2 linked regions of the Homo sapiens genome follow. Each later gene encodes a partner of the first gene's protein in a complex. Each region holds a gene or a part of one and is shown on either strand. Other genes may lie near its edges.

The links.
Region 2: DCP1A (region 1) and PAK1 share a complex: the UniProt entries of both Homo sapiens proteins name them as parts of the cytoplasmic complex.

Annotation. Positions count from the first base shown.
Region 1 is NC_000003.12:53,340,940-53,344,769, forward strand, and holds part of DCP1A (mRNA-decapping enzyme 1A), read right to left. Parts: intron 1,333-3,830; coding exon 1,205-1,332; intron 1-1,204. UniProt on the Homo sapiens protein: Necessary for the degradation of mRNAs, both in normal mRNA turnover and in nonsense-mediated mRNA decay. Removes the 7-methyl guanine cap structure from mRNA molecules, yielding a 5'-phosphorylated mRNA fragment and 7m-GDP.
Region 2 is NC_000011.10:77,321,344-77,324,251, forward strand, and holds the end of PAK1 (serine/threonine-protein kinase PAK 1), read right to left. Parts: intron 2,018-2,908; coding exon 1,931-2,017; 3' UTR 1,812-1,930; coding exon of another isoform or gene 1,794-1,811; 3' UTR 674-1,793; downstream 1-673. UniProt on the Homo sapiens protein: Protein kinase involved in intracellular signaling pathways downstream of integrins and receptor-type kinases that plays an important role in cytoskeleton dynamics, in cell adhesion, migration, proliferation, apoptosis, mitosis, and in vesicle-mediated transport processes.

The sequences.
Region 1 (3,830 bases):
CTGAGTCTCAGTTGACTTAACTGCCTGCTTACACCACATAGGTAACTGTATCGTTAACATTAAAGCACCACAGCTCTTGGCTCAGTGCTGGTAACCAGTAGACACTCAATTAAATAAACAGATAGAAAAACCTTACTTAGAAACATATTCAGACAAAATAAAGTAGAAAAAGTAATAAATATCTTAAAAAAAAAAACCCATCACCACTATTCTGGGCAAAAATAATATTTTCTGGCCGGGCGTGGTGGCTCATGCCTATAATCCCAGCATTTTGGGAGGCCGAGGCAGGCAGATCACAAGGTCAGGAGATCAAGACCATCCTGGCTAACACGGTGAAACCCCTTCTCTACCAAAAATACAAAAAAATTAGCCAGGCGTGGTGGCGGGTGCCTGTAGTCCCAGCTACTTGGGAGGCCGAGCCAGGAGAAGGGCATGAATCCGGGAGGCAGAGCTTGCATGAGCCTAGATCACACCACTGCACTCCAGCCTGGGCAACAGAGCAAGACTCCGTCTCAAAAAAAAGAAAATAATAATAGTAATAATAATACTTTCTTTGTGGAAAGAATTATCTGTATCTGTTCCCATCCTGTGTGTCCCAAACTAAGTTCTGTTGCTTAGGGACATGGGCAGCTGATAGTCCACAGCTGCAAAAAAACAAAGGCATAAACCTTATTTTAATAAACCGACAACAGAAATGTAGTGCTATTAAATGAAATAGTAAACTAAATTATATACAAAAGAATGTTTCCAGTTTCAGAGCCCAGTTTATTTATTTATTTTTTTGAGACACAGTCTCATTCTGTTGCCCAGGCTGGAGTACAGTGGCGCGATCTCAGCTCACTGCAACCTCCACCTCCCAGGTTCAAGTGATTACAGGCGCCTGCCACCAAGCCCGGCTAATTTTTTTCTGTATTTTTAGTAGATACGGGGTTTCACCATGTTGGCCTGGCTGGTCTCGAACTCCTGACCTCAAGTGATCTGCCCTCCTCGGCCTCCCAAAGTGCTGGGATTACAGGCATGAGCCACCACCTCTGGCCTCAGAGCCCAGTTTAAAAGGTTTGATCTTTCCAACAGACTCATTTATAATCATTAAGTAGAGACCATATTTTGTTTTGTAATTTGAAACTTCCTAAATAATGGATTGATAGAAACTAAAGTCACTCAATTTTAAATGTAATAACTATAATAAAACAGATATACTCACAGCTTGCATTTCTATACAGAAGAAATGGTTCATGGAGCTGAAATTCCAAATCTTTATTCACTGGTTCAACTAGATTGTGCATATTTAGTCGATTCACAATGGTAAAACCATGGTAAGGGGAAGCTGACCTTAGATTTAATAGAAGAAAAAAAAATATGTAGTTACCATTTAATCTGTAGAAATGTTATCTACTATGTACTTTATTTTCATTTCAAAAAAGAATGCATTAGAACATTATACAATATTATCAGCACTTACATCTGTAAACAAAAAATTTAAGTCAGATCATACTCCTCCTCTGACGAGAAGTCTCCAAAGACAGTCTCTCAGAGTAAAGGCCAAAGTCCTTACTGAGGCCACCAAGGCCCCACCTGATATACTCCCCACTCTGACTTCATTTCCTATGGCTCTTCTCCAGCTCCTACTCTCCAGCCACACCGGGCTCCTTGCCACTCTCTCTGCGTGTGTGCTTCTACCTAAAAACCTCTTCCTGGATTACTGCCCCAGAAGCTGCACAGCTATCTCATCTCCTCCAAGCCTTTGTTCAGATGTCACCTTTTTCATGAGGCCTACTTGAACTATCCTTTTTAATGCTCCCAAGCTCAATATCTCTAACCTTCCTCTTTTATCCATACCACTTATTTTTAGTATTTATTGTCCTCCCCCCACTAGGATGTAAGCCCCATGCAAATGGAGCTTTTGTCTTACTTTTTTCATACATATATCCCAAGATAGACACACAGTTGCTGAATGAAATATCATTCAATTGGATTGGCTATAATGGCTGCCCATCATTACAATAATGTTTTTCTTGCAACAAATAGATATTTACATAGCGCTCCTGAGTTAGACGGAAAATGCCTTGAATCCTACAATAGGAAACATCCTTGGTTCCCATATCAGAGGGATTCGGTACATGATCCTTTACTCTTCACATGTACCTAACACTTCACCGTTTTTCATTTGTTTCTCTACGATATACCCGGGGTGTTAACAGAACACTATTCTATAGATTAGGAGACAAGCTTTGAATGATAAGGCCTGTGCCTGAGGTCACACAAATAATGAGTTACAAATAATATAACTAGGATTCAGTTTCAGGTTTTTTGACTCCAAATCCAAGCTTCTACTATATGAAGTAATAGCTGCAAAGTGACAGTCTGACATCCTGGTATACCTTTATCCAAGGTACGCAAAATAGTCTCACATTTTCCAAACACAGTTTCTTGCGTCTCCTTTAATTAGAATCAGTACCATATAAGCCTCCGTGAATTGTATTAAATCCAGCCACCCACTACACTAAATCTCCTACTTTCTACAATCAGTGCCTCTGTATGATAACAATAAAGCCAGTAAAGTACTTTTACCAAATATCATAGAAACTAAGGTTCTAATAACAGAGTTTCTAGAGATTTATATTGCTAATGAAGAGTAATGAAGGGAGTGAGGGTAAAGATCCTTTCCTATTAATTTATTTATTTTTTATGAGAGGGAGTCTCGCTCTGTCACCCAGGCTGGAGTGCAGTGGCACGACCTCGGCTCACTGCAAGCTCCGCCTCCTGGGTTCACGATATTCTCCTGCCTCAGCCTCTCAAGTAGCTGGGACTACAGGTGCCTGCCACCATGCCCAGCTAATTTTTTGTATTTTTAGTAGAGACAGGGTTTCACCGTGTTAGCCAGGATGGTCTTGATCTCCTGACCTCGTGATCCGCCCACCTCGGCCTCCCAAAGTGCTGGGATTACAGGCGTGAGCCACTGCACCCGGCCGATCCCTTCCTTTTTAAAAGCAGAAAGATGAATAGCAGGGAACAAAGAAAGTGTCTAAGAAAAAAGAGCTTGGTGTACAAATATCAAAGAATTACACTTAAAAGAAGAAAAAAATGAGTGCATTTAGACGAGATCTCAAAGCTTTGTATCAAAATTTAGAAGAGTATTTGACAAATTCTTTTAAATTGGCATCAATGGAGAAAGGCAATCCTTATGAAGCAACTCAATACAAAAAAAAAAGGGAAAAGACCAGATATCAGTAATAACTCCTGCTGACTCCCTAAGCTTTAGAAAACAAGGGAAGGAACCTGCCCTTGTAAGAGTTAAGACCTTAGAGGAATCCAGGAAAACAAGTACCCCATGACTATCATATACTGTCAGTTGTCTTTAGGCCCCAAAAGCTGCCTAACAAAAAAGTTGCAATTTGCAAACCAATCTTAAAGATAATGAATTTTTGAATAAGTCAAAAATAAAAAATACGCCATCATGAATAATCCAAGCTTTCTAAAGAACTCTCAAATAAGACACTGTACATAATCCAGAACTTCTGTGGGTTGGGAAAGAGGACAGAACCAGTCATAAAAGACAACCACTCATGTAGTAATGAAAGAACAGAGGGATCGACCTCTCAATAACATTATTTTACAGAGCCAGTCTATGTATTGTCTTTTCCCCAAATATATATCTTTCTTTTTCTTTCTAATATGGGGGTAGGAAGAGAGACGCAGGCATCCATTTTAGACTCAATCATTATTATTTTGAAATTGCTTTGCTAGGCTGGTAATATAAATTCTAGTTCAGTTTATTCTGAATCACAGAAAGGCTCAGAGAAAAGAAAGAACCTGGTTAAGATTTCACA
Region 2 (2,908 bases), on another chromosome or scaffold:
TGGCTGTAGTCCATTATGATAGAGTTCTGCAGAAAACCAAATCCTTTGGGAGGCCAGTCCTCAGGGAATTCATCTTGGACAAGTTAACTTTCCTCTCAAGTGCCTACAGCCGGAATAATACATGAACTAGAGCTACACACAAACTAGGTACATATATTTTAAAAACATAATCTTGAGTGGAAACAATAACAGGCACAAAAGAATATATCTATTATGATATGTTTATTTAAAGTTCAAAAACTGGCCGAACTAAAATCTACTTGTATTGGAACACACCTGAATGTGATGAAAGTATACAGAAAAGCAAGAAAGTTATTTAAATAAAAGTCAAGATGGTGGTTACCTCTTAGGTGGGGGCTATAATGAGAAAGGAAGGACAAGATAGAGAAGGTTCTTACTGTCAGTGTTCCATTTCTTGATTTGGTGGATACAAGTGTGTTTATAATTATTCTTTAAACAATACAAATGGTTTTGGCCCATTTCTCTTAATTTATATTTAAAATAAAAGTGTTAAAAAGAAAGAATACACATTCAGGTATATAGTGGTAAAGGGGCATTCTATCTGCAACTTACCACTCTCAAATGGTTCAGGAAGAAACTACTCATTATTTCATATAAAAAATTAGAAAAGGAAAGAAAAAACGAAGAGAAAAAAGAAAGGCATACTCCAATAGAATATTTTCATCTCCTTTTATTGACAGAAATAGAAATTTGTGCTGCAGAGGCAGTAGTACCTCAGAGCATGAGAAGGTAGTCAATGGGGCTGACATGACAAGCCACAATGCTGGCCAGGGGTCCTACCATAGTGGGAGAACCAAAACCACAAAAATAGCAGGAGGTAGCAAACATCCCCAACACCCAGTGTAAGCATTTCCATTTGCAGAGAGCTTGGCCATGCATCTTAAAAACGGGGTCCCCTCACAGCTGGCAGGGTATCATGTCAGGCCACCAAATCCATCCAGAACTAACATGCAGTCTCTAATTTGGAGACTCTTTATTGTGACCAAAAGATTTGGACCATTAGAAGATCCAAGTTAATCTTTCAGCTCCTTATCCTAGGCAGAAAAAGGGGCTGAGTTCCTGAAACATCACACAAGTAGAGCTGGACAGGTGCTGATGCCCAGCCTTGCTCTAAAAGTAGTCACCATTTTCCCCGACTTCTCAACACTGCTCTCACTCAGTATGTGCCCTAGAAAACCTCTCAATGTTATAAACAAGGGACAGGATAGGGGCAGCAGCCTAGGGTATGCAGGGAATCAAAAGCTGCTACATAGCCGAGAGCATTTCACAAGAAACAGCATGGGAACACTATTGGGTCAAGGTCCTCCCGAACAGCTGCTAGAAGCACACACAAAGAAAAATGTGGTTGTTCTCCCATGTCAGGATCAGCTGAGCCAAAGTCATGGTCCAGGAAGCTGAGCCTCTTCATGTCCCTGGCAGATTATCAAACCCCATGGCATTCCCAAGCTGTTCCAGTTTTCAAGTACAATGAGGTGTCTGGGCAGTTGAGTCACAGAAAAGCAAGCACTAAAGAAATCTCAATTGATTACAAATTGATAATATTATCAAACCATAAATTTATATAGTCAAGAATTAATTGTGGGAGATGGTTATGAAGGAGGTGAGGATTTTGACACACGGAAGACTAGAAACATTTATTTATATAAACCCTTAATCATAAACCACCCTCATATCCATGAATTGGGAGGAAATTCCTTATTTAGAAATGGCCATCATCTGATTAGTCATTCAGTTGCAGTTCTCTTCAATGCTGGACACACGGTTTCCAAGGATCAAAGTCTTGAGGAGTGCTAGATCAGGAAATGGGAGAAGCAAGGCAAGGAGAAGAGGGCATCAGGAGTTGGAATTTCTGAAATGTGCATTTATCTCACAGAAGGCTTGGCACAATGAGGCTGGGGTGAGTGTGGTTTTAGTGATTGTTCTTTGTTGCCTCCTTAGCTGCAGCAATCAGTGGAGTGAGGCTGGAGAGGGGCTTGGCAATCTTCAGGAATTGATGCTAGAAAGGAGAAAAATAGCAAAAGACACATGACTATTTAACATTCTTCCCCAGTAACCATTACAAGACATAAAGGCATCTTTGTTTGTAAAGGGTGCTGTGTGGAAAGCTTCTGATCATCCCCAAATTGAAGGACATCTTAAAACAGACCACTTTGGAAAACTGTTTGGCAGCATCTACTTACAGATAAATACATCTACCTATACTCTAGTAATTCCAATCCTAGGTATATTCCCAAGAGAAATTAGTTTGTATAGCCACCAAAAGACATACACAGAAATGTTCATAAAAGATTTGCTTATAATAGCCAATAACCAGAAAGAACCCAAATGTCCAAGAGAATGGAAAAATGAATAGTGTTATATTCATATAATACTATACAGAAAATTACACAGCAATACAATAAGTAATTGGTACACTGACAAATGGGTTGAATCTCACAGACACATTAAGGGAAAGAAGCCAGACAAGCAAGTTCATATTGTATTATTCCATTTCTTCCGAGGTAAGCCTAACCATGGTGATAATCAGAATAATAATTACCTCTGGGGAAGGTATTAATAGATCATGACCCAGTAGTATATCGCAATACTGCATTTTAGGAGCATTGATCTAGGAATTTATTGTTCTATCCTCAAATCCAATAATGCTAATCATTCAGTAAAAAGTTCAGTAGCTTGGTCCTTTCCCAAATCACTTTCACTGGGCTGTACTTTGGGCCATACCTTCAACATTTAATGACTATTTAGGAGAAAATATTATATGAAAATTGCATCTAAATTTTCAGTAAAACTGTTACAGAAAGCAATTCCTTTTTTTTTTTTTTTTTTGAGACGGAGTCTCACTCTGTTGCCCAGGCTGGAGTGCAGTGGTGCGGTCTCGGCTCACTGC